Linked DNA regions of Homo sapiens. The gene in region 2 interacts genetically with the main gene of each other region. Each region holds a gene or a part of one and is shown on either strand. Other genes may lie near its edges. The genes, in order: GBF1 and SZT2.

Evidence for each region.
Region 1: changes in SZT2 (region 2) and GBF1 together harm fitness more than expected from each alone (negative genetic interaction), as found in Homo sapiens cells (one study listed by BioGRID).

The regions. Positions count from the first base shown.
Region 1 is NC_000010.11:102,367,432-102,371,248, forward strand, and holds part of GBF1 (Golgi-specific brefeldin A-resistance guanine nucleotide exchange factor 1), read left to right. Parts: intron 1-46; coding exon 47-129; intron 130-786; coding exon 787-1,023; intron 1,024-1,307; coding exon 1,308-1,401; intron 1,402-1,779; coding exon 1,780-1,956; intron 1,957-2,279; coding exon 2,280-2,344; intron 2,345-2,429; coding exon 2,430-2,553; intron 2,554-2,742; coding exon 2,743-2,814; intron 2,815-2,952; coding exon 2,953-3,047; intron 3,048-3,275; coding exon 3,276-3,429; intron 3,430-3,817. UniProt on the Homo sapiens protein: Guanine-nucleotide exchange factor (GEF) for members of the Arf family of small GTPases involved in trafficking in the early secretory pathway; its GEF activity initiates the coating of nascent vesicles via the localized generation of activated ARFs through replacement of GDP with GTP.
Region 2 is NC_000001.11:43,392,825-43,396,641, reverse strand, and holds part of SZT2 (KICSTOR complex protein SZT2), read right to left. Parts: intron 1-3,817.

The DNA.
Region 1 (3,817 bases), on a different chromosome or scaffold from region 2:
CTTCAGTGTTGACACAAGGGGAAAAAACTTACTGGCCTGTCTCTAGGAGTTTCGCAAAAATCTGAAAGGTGTGAATGGAGGCAAGGACTTTGAGCAAGACATCCTGGAGGACATGTACCATGCCATCAAGTGAGTATACATAGAGAATAGTGCAGTATCTCTGTTAAGAAGAAGCACATTGCTTCCTTTCCCAGTTTTTAGAGTCATGTCAGACTGCAGTGACTCACATGCCCTGGATTTAGCCTCAGGACTTAGTTGGGCAGCCCCCTCTCTGCCAACTGTTTCTTCCTTAAAGAAGCCCAAATGATATTGGGACTCTAGTACTCTAAGCCAGGGTCCAAAGTGCTGCTCTTAAGTAGGATATCATGGCCCCATTTTCTGAACTTAAAACAGGTACATTTTCCTGTATAGATTACAAGATGCTGGCTGGTAGAGAACCCAAGATGGGCACTGGAGTGTGAGGCCCAGGTTACAGGTCAGAAATGGGCCACTTAGTTTTTTACTGTAAATCAGAAAAGGTAGAATTGTTCATTTTATCACACCTAGTAAGAATGTGTGATCTTACTATAGAACTAAAGGCCTCACTTACAGATAGGGCTTTGAGATTATGGGACACTTCCTTTCTTTCTGTCTGCTCCCACTGGTGGGTGGAAAGCAGACCACTGAGCTGCAGTTCTGATGACCTCTCATCAGTGGAGAGTGCTAGTATGGATGAACTCCTAGTCTTGGTTTGGAACTAGTCAGGTTCAAAGCAGTGCAACTGCTCCTTCCCTTACCTCCTGACAGGAATGAGGAAATTGTAATGCCTGAGGAGCAGACAGGCTTGGTTCGGGAGAACTATGTGTGGAATGTGCTGCTTCATCGAGGTGCCACCCCTGAGGGCATATTCCTGCGTGTGCCTACTGCCAGCTATGATCTTGACCTCTTCACCATGACCTGGGGCCCCACTATTGCTGCTCTCTCTTATGTCTTTGACAAAAGCCTTGAGGAGACAATCATCCAGAAAGCCATCTCAGGCTTCAGGTAGCCCAGCTTTGGCCTTGGTCTTCACCTCCCACTAGCTCTGTGAGCTAACATGGTTTTCTCCATGCCTCTCTGACTCCTACTGTTACTTCATTAGAATGGGGTTCCCCCTGAGTTTTTGGAGGGAGGCTGAAGCTTGGGTAGGCTCAGTCTTAAACAGAAACAAAATTAAAAGGTTTCTTCCTGGGACTGACTGGGGAAGAGCCCCATGCAAGCTCAGGGACTTGGAAGGGCTGCTTGGCCTTCCAGTGACTCTGTTTCTGGGATGGGGGGTAACATTACAGGAAGTGCGCCATGATCTCCGCCCACTATGGCCTCAGCGATGTGTTTGACAATCTCATCATCTCTCTATGCAAATTCACAGCTCTCAGCAGTGAGGTGAGCAGGTGCAGGAACTGTGTACTTGGAGCTCCAAAGGAGGACCTCTCTTTTAGCCATGGATCTACCCTTATCAACAGACCTGGTTGCCCTCAGCGTCTTCCCTCACTGCCCCCACTTGAATATACCAGAGCTTAGGCCATTTCTGTCTTGCACACTCTGGGATAAAACTAGTGTTACTTCATGTAATGGGGATGGGAAAGGAGATACAGGAGTGGGGAAGGCCTTAACTAGGTTAACCCACTCCCACCAGTATTATGGGGGATTGAAGCAGAGCCAACAAAAGGACCTGAGGGAACCATCATAGGCAGAGACCTAAGAGATTTTCCTTTCCAGACATTAGCTCGGCCTTAAGTCTGTTCTCTTCCTCTTTTCCAGTCTATTGAGAACCTGCCCAGTGTATTTGGAAGCAACCCTAAAGCCCATATTGCAGCCAAGACAGTATTCCATTTGGCCCATCGTCATGGTGACATCCTGCGGGAGGGCTGGAAGAATATCATGGAGGCCATGCTGCAGCTCTTCCGAGCCCAACTACTGCCCAAGGCTATGATAGAGGTAATTCTTAGTAGGAGACTAGTGAGCGATAACAAGGCAAGAGCTGCAACATTGTATGCTACCTGTACATAGAAGTAAGTGGTTGAGAGTAATGTTGGGCCTGATGCCTGCCACAGCTCACCAGGAATGCCTCAAATGTAAGACCACAGATCTTGGGGGATAGCTGTAAAAGAAGGCTGGTAGATGCCATTGCCAGTCACCAATTGGCACAATAGCATAGGGGCAGAAGACTAGAGGAGGAAATCCAGAGAACTTTGGTGGGTGGAGGCGGGCACAAATGCAAAGGACACATGGAAAGAAATTATTTTGACTTACTTTTCCAGGTAGAAGATTTCGTGGATCCCAATGGCAAGATCTCTCTACAGCGGGAAGAGACACCATCAAACCGGTAAGAGCAGACCAGAGGCTCAGGGGCTTGGGGAGGGAGAGTCAGAACTTTGGGGCTCACCAGGCCATGTGCCCTTTTTCTACAGAGGAGAGTCAACAGTGCTGAGCTTTGTGAGCTGGCTAACACTGAGTGGTCCTGAGCAGTCTAGTGTTCGGGGCCCATCCACTGAAAACCAAGAGGCCAAGAGAGTGGCCTTAGAGTGTATAAAGGTAACTGCCCATCCACCCCTGGTGAGAAAGCCTAAACACCTTCCTATTAGATGCTACTTGGTGAACTGAAGAATAAATCATCCAGGATTTGTAACCAGGGCTGACTCTGCCCTCTCCCCCTGGCTCTTGGGGACATTCTGTTCTCTTCAGCCTTTGTCAAAGACCCCCTCTCTCTTTTGCCCTCTCTAGCAATGTGACCCAGAAAAAATGATCACAGAAAGCAAGTTCCTCCAGCTGGAGTCACTACAGGAGCTCATGAAGGTAAAGGATGAAGAAAGGAAACATGGAACAACTGGCTGAATCTGGGAGGGGTGACAGGGACAGTATTATTTCTGTCAGGGCAGGGCCAGTGGTTGGCTTCTTTTCCATGCCTACTTTCCTGCTGCTGTTCCCCTTCAGGCTCTGGTCTCAGTGACACCAGATGAAGAGACATATGATGAGGAAGATGCTGCTTTCTGCCTAGAGATGCTGCTAAGGATTGTGTTGGAGAACAGGTAAGATGAGCGTAGTCTTTAGGCAGACCCCATGCTGGGCTTGTGCCAAAGGGATGGAAGCCATCTTGCTGAGTGGGCTCTGGGGAACTGTAGGCAGCAGGGGAGAAGCTTACTCATCATACCTGTCTACTTAGGGTATAATACCAATGAGTCCTGAAAGGCCTAGGGGACCTGTTGCCCAGTGGCCCCTCTGGCTGAGACTATCTTCATTCCTTTATGTCTACACAGGGATCGTGTGGGCTGTGTGTGGCAGACTGTTCGAGACCATCTATACCACCTCTGTGTTCAGGCACAAGATTTCTGCTTCCTTGTGGAGCGGGCAGTGGTGGGGTTGCTACGCCTGGCCATTCGGCTTCTCCGGAGAGAAGAGATCAGTGCTCAGGTAAGCAGAATGCATCTTGGAGAGTGGGCAGGTATGCAAGGGATTAAGGCCACAGTTGTCAATTATGAATATGGCCTGAGACAGAGAGTACATTTAGTGCCCCATAGCATGAGTCCAGTGACCAACCACAGGGCTGGTGCAGTCTAGCGGGTGGTACTGGGAGTGAGCCTGGAATGGCCTCAGGCATGGAGCTTGTGTTTGGCACCTCAGCCTCCTATGAATCTGCTTTGTAGGACTGGCCTGCTACTGCCTTATAATAGTCTCAGCCCTATACCTGGTTTCCTGTCATGCTTATGACCCTCTTGAGATCTCTTTGCTTAACTACAAAAAACAACAAGCATAGAACTAATAAGTGGATTCAACAAGGTCACAGGATGTGAGATCAATA
Region 2 (3,817 bases):
TGAAAGCACCTTGTAAAAAGTAACGTGTATAAATGCACAGATTAGTAATAACAAAGTGTTGCTGTTTACCTCTCTTCTTTGAGTCAGAAGTCCTGCACAGCCATTCACTTCAGTGTTGTTTCTTTGTTTTTTTTGCCCATACCTGTTTAGTTGGTAGAGTTGGGAATGTCCTCACATAGAGCCAGAATCTGTCTTTTTGATAATATCTTGACCTACTCTTAAAATCTGTTGTCTTGAAAATATCTAACCCACTTTTTGTTTTACCTTCTAAGGCCACACAGGGAGAATCTGACCCTCTGCCAAACGAGAGTCTATTAAACATGTGATGACAGCCCTGAGTCTTTACTTTTCTAAAACAAACATCTTTGGGTTCTTTAAGTGTGTCTCAAATGGCATGGTTTCAAGTTTCCTCACTATTTTATATCTTAGATTATGTGCCCATGAATGAATTCTGGCTGGTCTACTTTACAACTTAAAATGTGGGGACCAGAATGGAACATAATACTCAAATGAGGTCACAGATTCAGATTCTCCTAGGTTATACTTGCTCAGGAAACCTCCATGACTTTCTCACTTGTGCTGCTGTCCAAACACATCTCCCATTTTATCCTCATGCACCTGGCTTTTTTGGACACATACGATCATTCAATTAGTCCTGTCACTTGGATAAATTCAGCCTATTATTTTATGGTGAAGCTTAAGAGTGTTGTTTCTTCTTCTACTAAATCTCTCCAGTTTGATTTCCATGCTAACTTGTTCAGGGTGCCATCATGTCCTCATCGAACTCCAAAAAGAACAAAGGCAAGGTAAGCATGCATGCATTCACTCAACAAATTTATGAAAAGCCTGGTACATGCTAGGCACTGGGCTGGGTCCTAATGATACAATGAAAAGCAAACACATGCATTCCCTGCTCTCATAAAACATATTCTATAGTGAAGGACAAAAACATTGATCAAATAATCACTGTGACTATTGTATAATTACACACTGAGTAAGTGCTCCGAAGGATAAGAATGTGGTTCTACAAAAACAAGTAACAGCCACGTGCAGTGGCCCATGCCTGCAATTCCAGCACTTTGGAAGACCAAAGTGGGCGGATTACTTGAGCCTCAGGAGTTTGAGACTAGCCTGGGCAACATGGCAAAACCCTGTCTCTACAAAAAATTATGAAAATTAGCTGGGTGTAGTGTCATGTGGCTGTAGTCCCAGCTACTCAGGAGACTAAGGTGGGAGGGTCGCCTGAGCCCAGGGAGGTTGAGGCTTCAGTGAGCCATGATCATACCACTGCACTCCAGCCTGGATGACAGAGCAAGACCCTGCCCCACTCCCTGACCTCCCCCTCCTCCCAAAAAAGCAAGCAAGTAACAAAGTAACCTGTTCAGGCTAATACCTTAAGAGAAAGTGATGCTGAAGGTTGAGCAAGGTTTGTTAAGTGAGGAGAGAATGGGGGTAAACGAGACAGAGGGCACAGACTATTAGAAAGCTTTCTTCCAATTACCAGTTAGTAGGCCACTAAATTTTACTACTGTACAGCTTCCATTTTTTCCCACCTTTCCTTGAAGGTTATTTTGAATGATGGACTGACTCTCCAAAGGCACAATGAAGTCTAGCTCATCAATCAGTTCTTACAGAATCCACCTTCCTGAAATCAAGAACATTTGCTGAACATTTGCCTAGTCTTCTTGCAACATCCCCCTTTACATATGATCCTTCAAAGTCAACAACTATATTTTCTTTTTCTTTTCTTTTTTTTTTTTTTGAGATGGAGTTTCGCTCTCGTTGCCCAGGCTACAGTGCAATGGCACCATCTCGGCTCACCGCAACCTCCACCTCCTGGATTTAAAGCAATTCTCCTGCCTCAGCCTTCCGAGTAGCTGGGATTACAGGCATGCGCCACCACGCCCGGCTAATTTTGTATTTTTGGTAGAGACGAGGTTTCTCCATGCTGGTGAGGCTGGTCTCAAACTCCCGACATCAGGTGATCCACCCGCCTCAGCCTCCCAAAGTGTTGGGATTACAGGCATGAGCCACCGCGCCCAGCCCAACAACTATATTTTCAAAACATCATTTCTAAGTTCTCTTCACTTTCAAGATGTAATTTATCATAACTAGAAGACTTAATAATTTAAGCAGCTAGAATGGTGTTTTTCAAAGTGGGATCCAAGGACCAGCTGCATGAAAAATCACCTGAAGTGCTTATGAAAATACAGCGTTGAGTCCCAGGCACCACCCCAGACCAACTGAATTAAGAGTTGATGGGCTCCAGACTGGGTGCTGTGGCTCACACCTGTAGTCCCAGCTACTCAGGAGGCTGAGGCACAAGAATTGCTTGAACCTGAGAGGTGGAGGTTGCAGTGAGCCAAGATCACGCCACTGCACTCCAGCCTGGGCGACAGAGCAAGACTCCATCTCAAAAAAAAAAAAAAAAAAAAGAGTTGATGGGCTCCAGAATCTACATTCTAACAAGGTCTCCAAGTGATTCTTCCACATTAACATTTGAGAATCCCTGAATTAGTTCTCAGAGCATCCACACTCACATGGAGCTTCAAGTCCTCATATGAATCCTCCTTGAGTCTGAAGTTCATTACTCTCAGAGTAGTCTGGCAAGGAAGACAAAGTAGAGTTTCGGGGTCAGGGACCTGGATTCAAATCTGATTCTATCATTTGCTATATAGGTGACCTTGGACAAGTTACTTAATTTTTCCAAGCCTCGGTTTCTTTATTGATAGTATGTGGATAAGAATATCTTCATAGGGATGTCGTTGCAATTAAACAGGAGAGGAAGGCTATCATTCTTTGGAATATTTATTGAGGTCTACATACCATTTATACCAAGATGAATAAAACATTACCAGGCACTGTGCTGCATACCATGTATACCAGGAAGAATGAAGCATGGTCCATCTCATTAATTTGTTGCTTTGTCTTTTTGTGCCTGTCCCTTTGTGATTAAGGTCTGATTTGTTCAGCCTTTTCTAACCCTTGTGCTGTCTTTTGTTAACACATTCCCACAAAATAATGTGGATTATTTCCCCTCTTGAACTGGCTAAAATCTTCTTACCACTATACATCAAAGTCCTGAGCCTCTAGCATGGCCTCAAGCTGCATCTTCTCCAGCCTTATCTCTCACCAATCCCCACGCAGTTAAAAGCATGTATTCCAGTGTTAGAGCACTTAGGATCAAATGCTTGCTCTGCTGATTATTAACTATATAGTTTTGGCAGAGACTTACACTCTCTATGCCTCAGTTAGCTCATCTGTGAAACACAGATAATAAAAGTGCTTATTTTCAGATAATTTTTGAGTATCAGATGATACTCAGTAAGCATTCAGTAAGTGCTAGCTATTCTCATTGTCAAACTGCATCCACACAAGGAGTTGCTTCCTCTTAGTTCTCTGAAGGCTCCACTGGGCTCCTTCTCACCTGAAGATCTTCACTATTCCCTTTGCCTGCAATGCTCTCTGCCTCTTCTTTTAGAAAACTTCTACCTATTCTTCAGGCTTCAGCTTAAATGTCATTCTTCTGAGTCTTCCTATTCACAACCCCTTGCCTCCCCATTTCTTAACAAGGTAGGTTGAGAACCACTGTTAAACACCCTAATTCACTCCTTTACAGCACTTATTATCCTAATTCAATCCTTGTTTACTCCATAAAGATAGAGAGCATGTCTGTCTTACACGGCTCTGTATCCACCCTGATACTTAGCACAATTCTGACTCCTACCAGCACTCGTAAAATATTTCAAGTGTGTGATGAATGAATGATTTCCTAAATCTGACTATACCCAATCTTTCTCTCTTGGGATCCTAACAG